Linked DNA regions of Homo sapiens: region 1 is linked to region 2. A link means that fine-mapping ties the variant in region 2 to the expression of a gene that starts in the linked region. Tissue or cell type: whole blood. Region 2 holds a variant in brackets; the other region holds the start of a gene. All regions are shown on one strand. Distances are between the middles of the regions.

What was found. PIP is the estimated chance that this variant, and not a neighbour inherited with it, causes the effect.
Region 1: it holds the start of ZNF831, and the variant in region 2 is fine-mapped to the expression of ZNF831 in whole blood (INTERVAL, PIP above 0.99).

What each region holds. Positions count from the first base shown.
Region 1 is chr20:59,159,899-59,168,005 of GRCh38, forward strand. ZNF831 (zinc finger protein 831) reads left to right here and starts at 3,923. Exons shown (of 6, transcript NM_178457.3): 1 at 3,923-4,309. RefSeq lists an enhancer at 1-273.
Region 2 is chr20:59,254,050-59,262,152 of GRCh38, forward strand. It overlaps ZNF831 (zinc finger protein 831), which reads left to right. Exons shown (of 6, transcript NM_178457.3): 6 at 1-5,064. The coding sequence ends at 694. Among named protein-coding and RNA genes, the nearest start is that of EDN3, 43 kb to the right of the region's middle. The variant A/T (reference allele first, on the strand shown) is at 5,046.

The sequences.
Region 1 (8,107 bases), 94 kb before region 2:
GTAAGTCTGTGGTCTCTCCAGCAAGTTCAGGGAAGTGAGGGAGTCGCAGTTCTCTGTCATTCAGCAGGTGTGGACTGAGGGCTGGCTCTGTGCCAGGCCCTGTGCTGGATGCTGGGTTCCATTGTGAGGCCAGGCACAGCCAAGGCAGAGACGAACATTCCTACAGTCGCTCACGACACCAAGCTCCACAGACCAGAGAATGGACGGATCCACAGGAACGAAAGACAGGCTGTCAGGTGCCCAGCCCTGGGGAGACTCCAGAAGAGGAGAGAGGACCACCCATCATGGCTGACCTTGGGAGGACTTGGGTCTTCACAAATTGTGTTCCTTGGTATATATAAGAGGGTTAAAATAGACACAAGAAATATCCATCTATTCCCATTCATTTATTTGACACATACTCTTGGGGCCATGAGTTCAATTCCCAGAAGAGGATCATGATGGTGGGGGGAGGAAGGATGTGGCGAGGGGCCGTGCAGGAGCCCAGGGGGCTTGTCTCATGGACGCTCTTGATCGAATTCCTCTGAGGCCCCAGAGGTGCTCCTTCATCCCCAGCTTGCTTGTGAGGCTGCGTTGGCTCCCCAAGGCCGAGTTTCCTGCTGAGACCCAGCCACACACTTAGCCCTGAGTGTACCAGGTGGCTCCACTCAGAGCGCTGCTCCAGCCCCTCTCCCTGGGGCTTCCTGCCACGTGACTGCACATTTGGGGTCTGGAGAAGGGCCCAGGGACTGAACTGCAAAGGTGAAGGGTGTCCCTGCTCCTCCTGACCACAGCTTCTGGACTGGCATGTGTGTCTGATGGTGCAAGACCAGAGGGGCATGGCCAATGAGAGAGTTATTCTTTCTACCCGTGAGTCTCCCTCGGACACACAGGATTTCTCATGTCTCCTCCTGGTTTTGCTGCTTTTTTTTTTTTTTTCTAGCTGCATGAGGTAGTTTTGTTTGAAAGAATAGTCAATGCAGACTGCAGTTTTCCGAATGAGGCTTGCTCTTGGCAAGTGAGTGAGATATCTTTGTGTTTGTTTGTTTCCTTCAGAAAAAAGGGCCTGAGAAAGCAAGTTAACAATTCTTTGGAAATGATTTTTCTTTTTCTTTGGTGACTGTTGCCACATGCTTAGTTCATTGGTTATTGGTTGCATGCTCTGGAGAGTCTATCTGTACCATGGTGCTTAGAAAAATTAGAATGGGAGTGATGGATTTATTTGTTATATTGAATTGATATAACTCACATACCATGCAATTCACCCTTTTAAAGTGTCGGATTCAGTGGCTTCTAGTATATTCACAAGGTTGTGCAACCATCACTGTGATCTAATTCCAGAACATTTTCAACACCCCCAAAGAAACCCCATACATTACAGTCACTCTCACTGTCTTTGTTTTTTTTTGTTTTTTTTTGAGATGGAGTCCCGCTCTGTAGTCCGGGCTGGAGTGCAGTGGCATGATCTCAGCTTGCTGCAACCTCTGGCTCCTGGGTTCAAGCTATTATCCTGCCTCAGCCTCCTGAGTACCTGGGACTACAGGTGTGCACCACCACACCCGGCTAATTTTTTGTATTTTTAGTAGAAATGGGGTTTCACCATGTTGGCCAGGCTAGTCTCAAACTCCTGGCCTCAAGTGATCCGCCTGCCTTGGCCTCCCAAAGTGCTGGGATTACAGGCATGGGATTACATGTTGCTGCATGGATACATGATTTTATTATTTTTATGGCTTTGTATATTCCGTGGTGTATATATGCCACTTTTTCTTCATCCAGTCTACCGTTGACAGGCACCCAGGTTGATTCCATGCCTTTGCTATTTGTGAATAGTGCTGTGATAAACATACGAGTGCAGGTGTCTTTTTGGTAGAATGATTTATCTTCCTTTGGGTAGATACCCAGTAATGAGATTGCTGGGTCGAATGGTAGTTCTACTTTTAGTCCTTTAAGAAATATCCAAACTGTTTTCCACAGGGGTTGAACTAATTTACATTCCCACCAACAATGTGTGAGTGTTCCCTTTTTTTTCTGCAACCTCACCAACATCTGTTATTTTTTGACTTTTTAGTCATAGCCATTCTGACTGCTGTGAGATGGTATCTCATTGTGGTTTTGATTTGCATTTCTCTGATAATCAGAGATGATGAGCATTTTTAAAATATGCTTGTTGGCTGCTTGCATGTCTTCTTTTGAGAAGTGTCTCTTCATGACCTTTGCTCACTTTTTAATGGTTTTGTTGTTGTTTGTTTAAGTTCCTTATAGATTCTGAATATTAGACCTCTGTTGGCTGCATAGTTTGCAAATCGTTTCTCCCATTCCATAGGTTGTCTGTTTACATTGTTGATTATTTCTTTTGCTACATAGAAACACTTTGGTTTAATTAGGTACCAGTTGTCAATATTTATTTTTGTTGCATTTGCTTTTGAGGACTTAGTCTTAAATTCTTTGTCTAGGCTGACATTCAGAAGAGTATTTCCTTGGTTTTCTTGTAGGATTTTTATAGTTTGAAGTCTTACATTTAAGTATTTAATTCATTTTGGGTTAATTTTTGTATATATTGAGAGGTAAGAGTCCAGTTTCATTCTGGAATTAGAGTGGCACTAATCACTCTATTCAACATTCTTCTGCATATGGTTAGCTAGTTTCCCCAGCACCATTTATTGAATAGGGGGTCCTTTCTTTCACTGTTTATTTTTGTTGACTTTGTTGAAAATCAGTTGGTTTTAGGTGTGCAGCTTTATTTCTGGGTTCTCTATTCTGTTCCATTGGTCTGTGTGTCTATTTTTATACCAATACCATGCTGTGTTGGTTATTGTGGCCTTGTAGTATAGTTTGAAGTCAGATAATGTGATGCCTCTGGCTTTGTTATTTTTGCTTAGGATTGCTTTGGCTATTCGGGCTCCTTTTTGGTTCCATATGAATTCTGGAATAGTTTTTTTCTAATTCTGTGAAAAATGACATTGGTAATTTGATAGGAATAGTGTTGAATTGCTTTGAGCAGTATGGACATTTTAATGATATTGAGTCTTATAATCCATGAGCATGGAGTGTTTTATCATTTGTTTGTTTTCTTTCAGTAGTATTTTGTAGTTCTCCTTGTAGAGATCTTTCACCTCCTTGGTTAGATGTATTCCTAGGTGTGTGTGTGTGTGTGTGTGTGTGTGTGTGTGTGTGTTGCTATTGTAAATGGGATTGTGTTCTTGATTTGGCTCTCGGCTTGAACATTACTGGTGTATAGAAATGCTACTGATTTTTGTACATTGATTTTTGTATCCTTAAACTACTGAAGTCATTCATTGGGTCTAGGAGTCTTTTGGTGGCAACTTTAGGGTTTTCTAGATATAGAATCATATCATCAGTGAAGAGAGATAACTTGACTTCCTCTTTTCCTATTTGGATGCCTTTTATTTCTTTCTCTTGCCTGATTGCTCTGGCTAGGATTTTCAGTACTATGTTGAATAGAGTGATCAGTGCCATATCTTAAAAATAAAACCTAATTCAAACAAATCCATGTTGAACAAAATATCACCATTTTACATAAAGACAGCATCGCAGAAATCTTTCACTGGGACCTCCCACCATAGTCAATTGCAGTGGAAATGCTCATTCTGGGCCCTCAGGAACCTCTGGGGTTACATGTGGAGGTTCTGCAAACACTTGTTCCATCCACATCTCCAGGAAAACGACCACCTAGGCTCTAATTCTTAAACTTGCCTGCACAGAACAACCTCATCTCTAATGCAATGTTTTTTTGCACACCTACATTTCTGGGCAGCAAGCTCTTTATAGGTTGTTAGGTCAATAGTAACAATTACTAAAGAGCTGAGCGGTGGCTCTTTTTTTTTTTTTTTCGTGTCTGCTTCTATCTCTTCCTGTTTTCTAAGGGTTGCTACCGTGACGTTAGGTAATGTATAGGAAATAATTTACTTCCTATTTCTGGGCCATACCAAGTTTTATCTCTGCTTGAGTCTCTTCCAGGTTGCTTGAAATGGTGCTTTTCTCAGTTAAACGTGGACTTGACATAAAGGCCAAGCCACAGGAGGCTGCCCTCTTTTATTTTATTTTATTTTCTAAGGCTCAGGGAGCATCTCTCCGTTCTCTGAGATGCTGCCTGCAGAGTAGGAACTGGGAGAGAACACTAAAATGCCCTCTCAGCAAAGAGTAGCGAGCTCCCTACAGAGAGTGAGAGCACGGGCTCTTGAGCTCATCTCTTCTCTGTGGGGCCAGCCCAGTGGTCCTTTCTGGACCTGTGGGTGTCTTCTCTGGGCAACCAGATCATTGTGTTTGAATCAGAGCATCATTGGCTGAAAACACTCCACTGTTTATAAAGGTATGTAACATGCTCCATGACATAAGCATATATAAAATGTCAGTTAAAAAAAAACTCTTTTACTCTATGTTCTTAATGATATATTTATCTTCAAGCACGCAGTTAAAGGGAAAATGCTACGTAAAACTGTGTGTGACCCAGTTCAAGTAATTCTCTCATGTGCTTAATACTGCTGTTGCTTTTGTCAAAATATTTACTACAATTCAAAATGGCTGTCAGAAACCAGGTCCACAATCCATGTTCTACTAAACAGAAAAACATTTATAAGAAAATTTATTGCTTTATAAACTGTTTTTTTTCCCAGTGATGAACCTAATTAAACTGAAAGTGTGAATTGGTTAGAACATATTAGCCCAAGTATGTGTGGTATATATATACACATATATATGTATGTTTTATTAGGCCAAGTTTTTTATTTGTATATAATATAATTGAAATATCAAGGTATTTGATAGAGCTACTATTTATAGCAATTCTACTGATCAGCCACCCAAGGGTAGCATTTTTCAATGAGATTTACAAGGGCCAATAGTCCATGTATTTATACACATATCTGACTTCCCAGTATCCAAAATAGCAAAGAGCTGGAGGCTATCTCAGATCAGCCATGGAAGCCATGCTCTGAGAGGTAACGTGTTTCTCCTTTCCCGTAGCAAATCTTTCTGTAAGAATGAAACCAGAGATGTTATCTACCAAAATGCAACGAGGGACAGGATGCAACTTAGAAAAATGGTAACATTAGCTGACTGGGAAAAACAGAATCAACGTCAGGGCCAGTTTAAAATAATATGCCTTTTAACCACCCTCGCTTTATTGCCCCAGCTAAGAGCAAGTATTTAGGACCATAGGCTAATATTAATCAGAGAGAACACTTAGGTTCTGTGGCAATGTTGGGGTCTGTGAGATTTGCTTCCTTAGCTGTGCTTCCGCTGGGAAGCTGGGGAGGGTTGGTCCTGAAGGAGGAGTGCCATGTGAGCAGGGTTACCCAAAAGCACCTGCCTAGGGGAAATGGGCTCACTATCAGGCGCCGTGGAGTTACCAGCTAGAGAGACTTTTCTCCTGGTAGAGACCATGAACATCATGTAAGCAGAGAACCAAGACTGTAAAAGGGAGGTAGGGTAGGCTGTTTGGTTAGGGGAGTGGGGCAGGAACAGACACAGGGAGAGTCTACCACGTCTGGACAAATCACATCTATGGTTTTATCCAATCCTTTGAACAAATGAACATGAGCCCCACTTTTCAGATAAGGAAAACACAGCATGGAGAGTTTAAGTGACTTATTCCAGGTTACAGGGTTTATAGGTAGCAGAGCAAAGGTTCAAAGACAGGTCTTATCTCCAGGGTCTGGGAACTTTACCCACCATGCTGCCTGTCTGGGTGTGGCATGGCAGGGAAGGCTGAGTTATGCTGGAAGGTCACACTCAGGGATTTCTGCAGAGTGACTTTGGGGCATAGGTAGGAAGCTTGTTCTCAGTACTGGCTTGTTACCAAGTGAGAGATCTTTGTATGTTTTCATTGCTTTCCTTGTAGTTCCTTTTTTTTTCTTCTTTTTTTCTTTTTTGGAGCTGTAATCTCGCTCTGTCACCCAGGTTGGAGTGCAGTGGCATGATCAGCTCACTACAACCTCTACCTTCTGGGTTAAAGCGATTCTTCTGCCTCAGCCTCCTGAGTAGCTGGGATTATAGGTGCTCACCACCACAACTGGCTAATTTTTTTGTATTTTTAGTAGAGAAGGGGTTTCGCCATTTTGGCTAGGCTGGTCTCTAACGCTTGACCTCAGGTGATCTATCTGCCTCGGCCTCCCAAAGTGCTGAGATTACAGGCGTGAGCTACCACACCCAGCCCCTTGTAGTTTCTTTATGATCACTTTGTATTCATAGCAATGTTGGAGCTTTTCCAGATATGGTAAATGGTAGTGATGTCAATTTTCCTTTGAATATATAAGGGTACATAAGAAAAAGTGAGTTGATATAAAGAAAATGAAAGGAAAATGGTCTGTGCAGAGTCGGTGTTTCTCCAAGGGTAGGCTGTGGTACTCGTGGCTAGGGTCGGTTCTAGATACACTATGGATGCTGCAGTAAATAACATTGACTCACACACTGGGAAGGTTGTTCCTGTTTTGATTCTATTTACGTATTTATTACTTTCATAAATTAGCCTCTTTGTTTTGAGAACATTGCAGATTCACCTGCAGTTGTAAGAAAAAAATACAGAGAGATCCCATGTGTTTTTTACCCAGTTTCCTCCAATAGCAACATCTTGCAAATCACAATCAAAATATTGACAGTGATATAGTCAAGATACAGAACATTTCTGTCACCGCAAGGATGCGTCGTGGACACCCCAAATCCCTCCTGCTCTCCTCCTCTCTCTCTCCCCCCCAACCCCTTAACCCCAAGCAATCACTAGTCTGTCCTCCAGTTTTATAATTTGTCATTTCAAGAATGTTATATGAATGGAATCATTCAGTGTGGTGTGTAGCCTTTGGGGACTGACTTTTTTCATTCAGCATAATTCTCTAGAGATTCATCCAAATGTTTCATGTGTCAACGGTATGCTTCTTTTTATTGCTCAGTAGTGTTCTGTGATATGGATGTACCACAGTTGGTTTAAATATTCATTGTTGAAGGGCATCTGGGCTGATGCCAATTTTTGACTATTACAAATAAAGCTTTAGAAACATTCATGTACAAGCTTTTGTGTGAACGTAAGTTTTCATTGTGAAATAAATGCCCAGGAGTGCAGTTGCTGGGTTGAATAATAGTCCCATGTTTGATTTGTTAAGAAATGGCCACCCTTTTTTCCAGAATGGCTGTGCCACTTCACATCCACACCGAAATGGATCCTGGCAACGTGGGCAGTGTTTCCAGATCCTCGCCAGCATTTGCTGTTTCACTATTTTTTATTCTAGCCATTCTGACAGGTGTGAAGTGATATTTTATTGTGGCTTTAATTTATATTTCCCAGGTGGCTAAAGATGTTGAACACCTTTTCGTGTGCTTATCTGCTGGCTGTATACCGTTTTTGGTGATAACTTGCTTCATGTGTTTGCACACTTTCTAATTGGATTGTTGTTGGTTTTTTTTTAACTGTTAAATTTTCATAGTTCTGTATAGATTTTAAATATAAGTCCCTTGTCAGATATGTTGTTTGTGAATACTTTCTCCAGATCTGTAGCTAGTTTTTTATTCTCTTATTATAAGCAGGGGTTTGCACAGAGCAAAAAAAAAAAAATTAACTTCGATGAGGTCCATTTTATTATATTTTCCTTTTATGGCTCATACTTTTTGTTTCAAGTCTAGGAACTCTTTCCCACTTTAGAAGTCCTAAAGATTTTCTCCTGTGCTTTTTTTCCCCTAAGCTTTTACAGTTTTATATTTCACATTTAAGACTGTTTTAAATATTTTGAGTTAATTTCTATATAAGTAAGATGTGAGGTTTAGGTCAAGGTTTTTTTTTTCTTTTTTCTTTTGCCTGCGGAAGTCAATTGTTTCAGCATCATTTGTTGAAACATCTACACTCTCTCTACAGAACTGCTTTCAACCTTTGTCAAAAAATCAGTTGGCTGAGGCAGGAGAATTGCTTGAACCCAGGAGGCAGAGGTTGCACTGAGCTGAGATCGTGCCACTGCACTCCAGCCTGGGTGACAGAGCAAGACTCCATCTCAAAAGAAAAAAAAATCAGTTGGGTATATTTGTGCAGATTGATTTATGTTTTTTTTTTTAATTATTTTGTTCTACTCATGTCTGTGTCTATTCTGACAATACAGTCTTGATTACTTTGGCTATATAATAAGTT
Region 2 (8,103 bases):
GACTCAGCTGCTGGCCTCCCAGGATTCAGTCTCAACAGATCCCAAACCATACATCTTCTCAGATGCTCAAAGGCCTTCTTCCTTTGGGTCCAAAGGAACTTTTCCCCACCATGACATTGCTACCTCTGTGGCTGCCGTTTGTATTTCTCTGCCAGTGAGAACAGATCACATAGCCCAGGAAATTCACAGTGCTGAATCACGAGACCACAGCCAGACTGCAGGGAGGACTCTGACATCAAGCTCCCCAGACAGCAAAGTCACAGAAGAGGGCAGAGCACAGACCCTCTTGCCAGGGAGACCTTCATCTGGACAAAGAATTTCAGATTCGGTTCCACTGGAGTCAACTGAAAAAACTCATCTTGAAATACCAGCTTCAGGACCAAGTTCAGCTAGTTCACACCACAAGGAAGGGAGACACAAGACGTTTTTTCCTTCCAGAGGCCAGTATGGGTGTGGGGAAATGACTGTCCCCTGCCCCTCTTTAGGAAGTGACGGTAGGAAACGTCAGGTATCTGGATTAATCACTCGGAAAGATTCTGTGGTTCCTTCTAAGCCAGAGCAGCCCATAGAAATTCCTGAAGCCCCTTCTAAATCCCTCAAGAAGAGGAGTCTGGAAGGAATGAGAAAGCAAACTCGAGTAGAGTTCAGTGACACCAGCAGCGACGATGAAGACCGATTAGTTATAGAAATATGAAGCTTCCAGAGAAACATGGTGTCTGGTCAAAAAGACTGTTGACGCTTCACAAGTAAATGTTGTCAGGCTGGCGGAAGAACTAAACTCTATCTGTGAAACACCTACAGATTAGGAAAGCCATTTTGAGTTATTTACAAGCCAACTCCAACCAACTTCTGACCCCCAACTCAGCCGCAGCGTTCCCCAGCTCCCCTTGGGAGTGCTCTGCTCATCTTCAAATGGTGCCAGGCAGGGCAGACATGGCAAGGAAGCAAACTCTGCAAATGGTCAACGTGCACAGTGACTGGGCCTTGACTCCCAGCCTCGTCTTCTGCACCTGTCCCCCACTGCCTCTCTGCAATCAAATGGCACTAACCAAGAAAGCCACCATCAACACATTTCTCCACAAGTGGACCCCACACAGTCGAGGCAACTGGCTTTCTCCATTAGTAAACTGAGGATTTGCTTCCAAGGTGGAGAGCACACTTGGGATAATTGGAGTAGCTTGACAAAGAGACGGGGGTGTGAACTGGGCACAAAGATACTTCTGTTCATTTTGGAGACAAAATTCAGATACATTAAAAAACTGAAGCTTGTTCAGAGTAATTCACGTCCTTGGTGGAGTTGTAAATACACTTCAAAATGCCTATGATCCGGTGACATGCTGATTACTTTTAAATGTTGCACAAATGGTCAATGCTTATTTATGGTCAGATGATGCAAGCACATGCTCTTGTGCCTGGTGCGTTTGCTGTGGAGATCTCTGAGACTGTCGGTTTTTCTAGTTCTTGCAAAGGAACGGTGTTAAAAGTTAATAGAACTGTCTCTCTGTAATGAGTCATTTTTTGAGAGGGAAAAATTCACTTATTTTCCTCTGATTCTTCTTGTCATATTGTGCTCTGAGCAATTTCAATTAGAGGGTTACATTTTAGTAATCTGTACAGCTTCAACTGATGCCTGCTCGTCGTGACGGGAGCCTTTTAGATTTCCTTCAGAAGCTTCAAGGATACAAAACTAATTGGAGTTTTGACGCTGTTTTACATCTCGGTAATTTTATTTTCGGGGCTTAGTGTTACTTTGCTGTCAAATTAAATCAGCCTCTGTATTGTGCACGTCAGAACTGCACAGAGAAAATTCCCCAGTATTCCAAGCCGGTGCGCCCCTGTGCAGAAGAAAACAGATCTACGTCAGCCAGCCCGGGGGGCAAAGCCTCAGTTCCACTGCCTTCCTCTCCCTCTCCTTCCACGGGAGAGGAGAAACTTAAAGAGGTTTACATTGCTGCATTTCAATAAAATTTTATACTTGCTTTTGGTATGATTTTGTACAATTTGAAATTTGTAGCTGAGCTCTTTTGGTGTAACTTTGATGTAATGATGTTCATATGACATCTTGTACTTCAGAGACACAGCAGCAATGCAGAGCATCTCACACATGTGAATACACTTCAGTCAGTCTGTGCCTGTGACTAAGTATGGTCAAATTTCAAGTATCTTCATGTGAATTTTCCAATTTTGGTGTTTTTCATAGAAAACTTCAATGCCAGACCAGCTTCCCTGGTTACTTAGCATATATTTGTGACCATTTCATATGCACTCATAAATATCCAAGGATTTCAGGCCCAGCCAAGAAAAACATAAGAAGGGAGGTAAAAAGGATGTTGGACATTGACTTAGTGTACTTTTTAAACCCAACAAAAGCGATGTGGTGATTATCTCCCTTTTCGAAGGATTCATGCCACTGTAATGAGAGAGGCAGTGTAGGCAAATGGTCTGAGCCTTGGATGGAGATTGAAGTCCTGACTTTAGCTGGGAAATCTTGGTTAAGAGTCTTTCTGTACCTTAGTTTCCCTAAGTGAGAATAAGAGAGTTGGACAAGACGAATGTATCTCCAGGTTCCAATTTTTCTGAGAATGGTTGATAGAGAAGCTGCTCTCTCCTTAAAATGCATGGACTCAATGGCTTGAAGATATTCCCCATGGGGAACCATTGCCACGGAGGCCTTGCATGCAAGAAGTTTGGGTGGGGACAGTGAGGAACTGAAACACAAGCACCTTCCACCAATTATTGCTGTGAAGAACCTGAGCCTGAAGAAGCTCCATCTAATTTTTTCCCCAGAGTTCCAGATTTTAGGGTGCAATCATCCAGCCTATACATGTGGCTCATAGTTCAAAAAATTAAAAGCAAAACCAGAACTCTCCAGTAGGAATGGAGAAAACCTATCTGTAGGCTGAACTGGCTCCTTTGTCTTAGGAGGCACTGGTCAGGGGAAAAAAGCTGTCTTCCAGACCCCTCCTTTCTGGGTGGCTACTGTGGAATCAACGGGGTCACTGGCTGTAAATCAGTAAGTCATAGCTCCAAACAGCACCAACTTCAGGATGATGGTGGAAGCTCTGTCCCTATAGGAGCCACCGTTGCCAGCTGTCACATCCCAACCTAGGTCAAATATGGCGGAATATTGATTTCGTCTCTAACTCCCTGTATCTCTTACAAAGGTAAAGCAGGTAGCGAAGCCACCTTGCTTCCCTGGTCTTTGCCTAGTGGCTGGCAATGTTTACAAGTGTACCTTACTTTATATCAACATGAATTTGTGAAAAAGCTGTATGTCAATGGATTTTTTAAAAATTAAAAATGTATTTTGAATGACCCTAAGGGAGCTGGCTCTTTAAAAGCATCCTAAGGTAAAGATTTTTTTTAAATGAAGAATCTTTTTATAAAGCAATGAACAATCTCTGATTTTATAAATCTTAATTTTCCTATGGGTTTTCTTAAAGTGAAATACAATTATAAGAATACATTTTAAGGGTAACATTAACAACCTAGAACCCAGTTTGGGTTACTAAAAATAAAATGTCAGTATTATCAATTGATAACTACCACAGTTTTATACTCTGCAAGTGTGTACTGCATGATGGTTAAGGAAAAACAAATTTATTTTAGAACAAAGCAAACCAGAGTTTAAAGATCAGGGATTTCCTTCTTTCCCCAGTGCTAATTTTCCCAGTGTTAATTTTATTATATCTTTAGGTAAGGGTCTTAACCAACTGATGCCTCAGTTTCTTCCACAGAGAATAGTTAGAGGGATGCTGTCATGAACTAAGGGAAGGGCACTGAATTTTTTTTTGCCAATATCAAAAGTGACATTTCCCCATGATGTTCAAGACTCACCAGGTTTCTCTCTCCACCTGTACCTACACCCAGCTAGATCTTGTCGTTAAAGATGTATGGAGGGAAGAGGTTTCAATCCTTCCCTCCTTGGCAACCTACATTGTTAAGTGACTCAAAGTCATGTGATTTTTGGTGGACAACTGGAATCCTCCTTCTTGTAAAACACATTGAAAAACAGCTCATCTCTCCTGTTAGGCTTAACCCTTGAGATTTGAGACAAAGCTAATAATCCCCTTTGGTTCACATCTCACAGTAACCAGGAGAACCTATGGTTCATTTGCCAAGTGATTAAAAAAAAAGATGGAGGAGGGTGTCTCTGAATTTTAATGGAAACACTGCCAATAGCATGGTGGGTAACCTAGGGCAAGACAGACTTTTTCTTCCTGAAATCACTCTTCTAAAGCTGAGACCGGAAGAGGAACCTTGCAGAAGTGCACTGTGACCACAGTTCTTGGCATGAAAGATAAACAATTTGCAGTCTCATGCCAAAAAGTATTTCCTTGCATTTACATTCATTACTTAGAATGATCACATTATTCATTTTTTTCCCCAGCACAGAAATTTGCATTTTGCACAGAATTTGCCTGGTGCAGCAGATCTTTATAGTTATGGAAACTGTCATCATTATCGGAATGTGCTGCTGCTCAACTCCCCAGACATAATTTAATATGGTGAGGAGAATATGACCTGCCTGGCTCTATGGGTGATCATATTTCTACTGCTGCAGCAAGCTGGGCTTGTGTATTTTTCCTCACTTCAGTTGTTCTTCCCATAGTTCATGTAGGGAGGCACTTTGGCTTTTGAAACACTACATTTCTCAATATTTAAGCACAATTTATTGTCCTTATTTTTCAGAACCCATTAAATATAAGGGTCAGAACCTAGAAAATCTTATGTGCTGGATTTCTACCCTGTATGATTCTTTTCATCCATGCTTTGCACTTACGTAGGAATATACATAATTTGGTCTGAAGAAGTATAGGAACAGTTGAGCACATTACTTCACCACTGGAAGAATAGGAACCAGGGAAAAACATCAGCCTCTGCCACTTGGAGCACTAGAGGATGACGGAATGTCTTGTATATGCGGTCAACTGTTCAGGATTTACTACTCAATTGGTTGTTCACAATCAGGGAAATGATTGGCTTCTTGGTTGTTTGTTGAACTTTCTTTCTTTATATGGTTAAATTATTTTGTTTTGATAAAA[A/T]TAAAACTTAAAATGCAAATGTCTCACGTGATTTGTTAACATTTTAACCAAAACCCCTGCAAATCATATGCTTTATGAATTGGACATCTGATTATTCCTAATCATTGACCCAATGCCTCGTTGGCCGTATTGGTATCCCATTCCACTCAACAAAGGGATTAGGTCATGTCAAATGATCTCACTTTCTTGTGGTGCTTCCTTTTCACACATAGCTCGTTTGTCATTATCTGCCATATTTTATAGTCTGTAACTTAGGAATCTGGTTTTAGATTCTTAAATGTAGCGAAACTCTGAAGCCACAGGAGGGCACGAACCACAGTGCAATAATCCAGAATCTTTTCCCCTTGGATTTGATGTTTTCTGGACATTTAGCATTATTCATTAACAGAGAAAACATCCTTAAATCAAAATCATAGCTTCTTATGAAGGTGATTTATGTACTCCTTGCAAGAATAAGTAGACTTACTTTTACAGCCCAACACAATGTTATTAGTCTATTTACATACCTCTTGAAGACACTTGAAGTCAGTGGGGCACAATTCATTGGAGGGAAAAGTGGGATCGAGGATATGGAAGGAACAGGTATACTAATTGATGGCAGTTAATAGCTTTTTTCCCCAAACTCATCAAACTGTAATCGCCGTTATTATAATTAATCTATTTGTTCCAAACTTCAGTCATTTGAGAACCATCTTAATGCTTTTTGCCATATGTATCAAGATGCCACATGTGGGTATATTTTTTACTTAATACTTTTATTTAAATTATCTCTGTGTTAAAGAAGCAATTATTGCCCTAAGCAATAATGTCTATGAAAACTTGTTGAATTTTCGAGTTAAGTATATTTTCAAATATGCATTAAATGTAGTAAAACTATTAAAAATTGTTCATGTGCCAGTTAAATACCATCTTCATATTACCAGTGGTCTACCCAGTGCACTTGGGGAAACATCGAGCTAACCTAAACAGTATGTTTGCTGTTAGGTTTTCTAGTTATTCTGGCTTCTATGAAGCAGAGCTCTGTCTCCATTTTTTCTCCAAGACAATAGAACTGGTGACCACAAACAGAATTGTGGGATTATTGGGTAAGTTTCTTTGGTCAAACTGTAGAGTTAAATAACTGACATTTCAAATCAAAGGATTTTGGTCTCAAAGGAATAATCACATAATGTTTTGTTGCATAAATATGTTTTTTGTTTGTTTGTTTGTTTTGGTGTTTTGAGTGTTGGCTGATTAGTCGGTGAGTACAGAATGATGTATAGGAATGCATAGTTAGGAATTCATGCCCAACCAGAAGCACCGACATAAGTTCTGCTGAAATAACTGCTTCCATACTTCTAAATGTGAGGGAAATGGATTTGGCTGTACTAAGAACCACAGAGAGCAACTTTTTAAGTCTCCTTAGTGTCAGCTTGTTGATCTTTGGGCTGTGTATGCAGAAAGAATTGCTCAGTGGCATCTGTGACCTTTGTTTCCAGCGGTGACAGACACAGTCTGCCTTCAGTTTCCTTCAGTTTCTGCCAGAGGCAAATTCAACAGCCTCTACCATTGAGCATCTTGGGATTAGTCCATGGCCATTTCAGCCCAGAAATAGGTGAATTATTTTTCCGTGTGAGGTATGAGTGAATGGATATCTCATTCCTATTGGGAATGAGAGGTTTGTACCTGCAGCACCTGGGAAAGAGTGGCCCAGTTCTGTCTGTGGCCACAGAGATCTGGTTGCCTTCTGTGTGTATATTGTGTGCAATGGGGTATTAATGCAGCATGATTGAGGCTTCTTGGCTCCATCATACATGAAAGGCCAGATATCTAGCCTTGCTTTTTCTACATGATGTGTAAACCACAAATGCGAATACTCTAGTTGGACATATTTGCCTGAAGGAACCCTCCTTACATACATACACACACACACACACACACACACACACACACACACACACACACTGAACATATTGAAAACTTCCTCAAAAGTCCTCCCCTTGTTAAAATAACTGGGTGGACTAGGGCCGATGAGTTAGGAAATGAGATGACTATGTATATGGCCCAAAAGGGAGCTCCCTGGAGGCAGAGCCCATGGTGTCTTTATCTTGGTTTTCTTAGCTGCTGGAAGAGTGCCTGGCTCATAGCAGGCATTAGTGCACTTTTGCTGAGTAAACAAATGAAAATGGCTCACCGAGAGTAAATAGGGAAGAAAGAAAGAGTCTAAGATAAATAATATAGCCCAACCCCTTCCTTCTTTTTTTTTTTTTTTTTTTTTTGAGATGGAGTCTCACTCTGTTGCCCCAGACTGGAGTGCAGTGGTGTGATCTTGGCTCACTGCAACCTCCACCTCCCTGGTTCAAGCAATTCTTCTGCCTCAACCTCCCAAGTAGCTGAGATTACAGGTGCACGCCACCACACCGGGCTAATTTTTGTATTTTCAGTAGAGACGGGGTTTCACCATGTCCTTAAACCAAAATCATAGCTTCTTATGAAGGTGATTTATGTACTCCTTGCAGGAATAGGTAGACTTACAGCCCAACACAATATTATTAGTCTATTTACATACCTCTTGAAGACACTTGAAGTCAGTGGGGCACAATTCGTTGGAGGGAAAAGTGGGATTGAGGATACGGAAGGAACAGATTTACTAATTGATGGCTCTTAATAGCTTTTTTTCCAAACTCATCAAACTGTAATCGCCATTATTATAATTAATCTATTTGTTCCAAACTTCAGTCATTTGAGAACCATCTTAATGCTTTTTGCCCTATGCATCAAGATGCCACATGTGGGTATGTTATTTACTTAATACTTTTATTTAAGTTATCTCTGTTAAAGAAGCAATTATTGCTCTAAGCAATAATGTCTATGAAAACTTGCTGAATTTTCGAGTTATTTTCAAATATGCATTAAAATGTAGTAAAACTATCAAAAATTGTTCATGTGCCAGTTAAATATCATCTTCAAATTACCAGTGGTCTACCCAGTGCACTCGGGGAACCATCAAGCTAACCTAAACGGTGTATTTGCTGTTAGGTTCCCTAGTTATTCTAGCTCCTGTTAAGCAGAGCTCTGT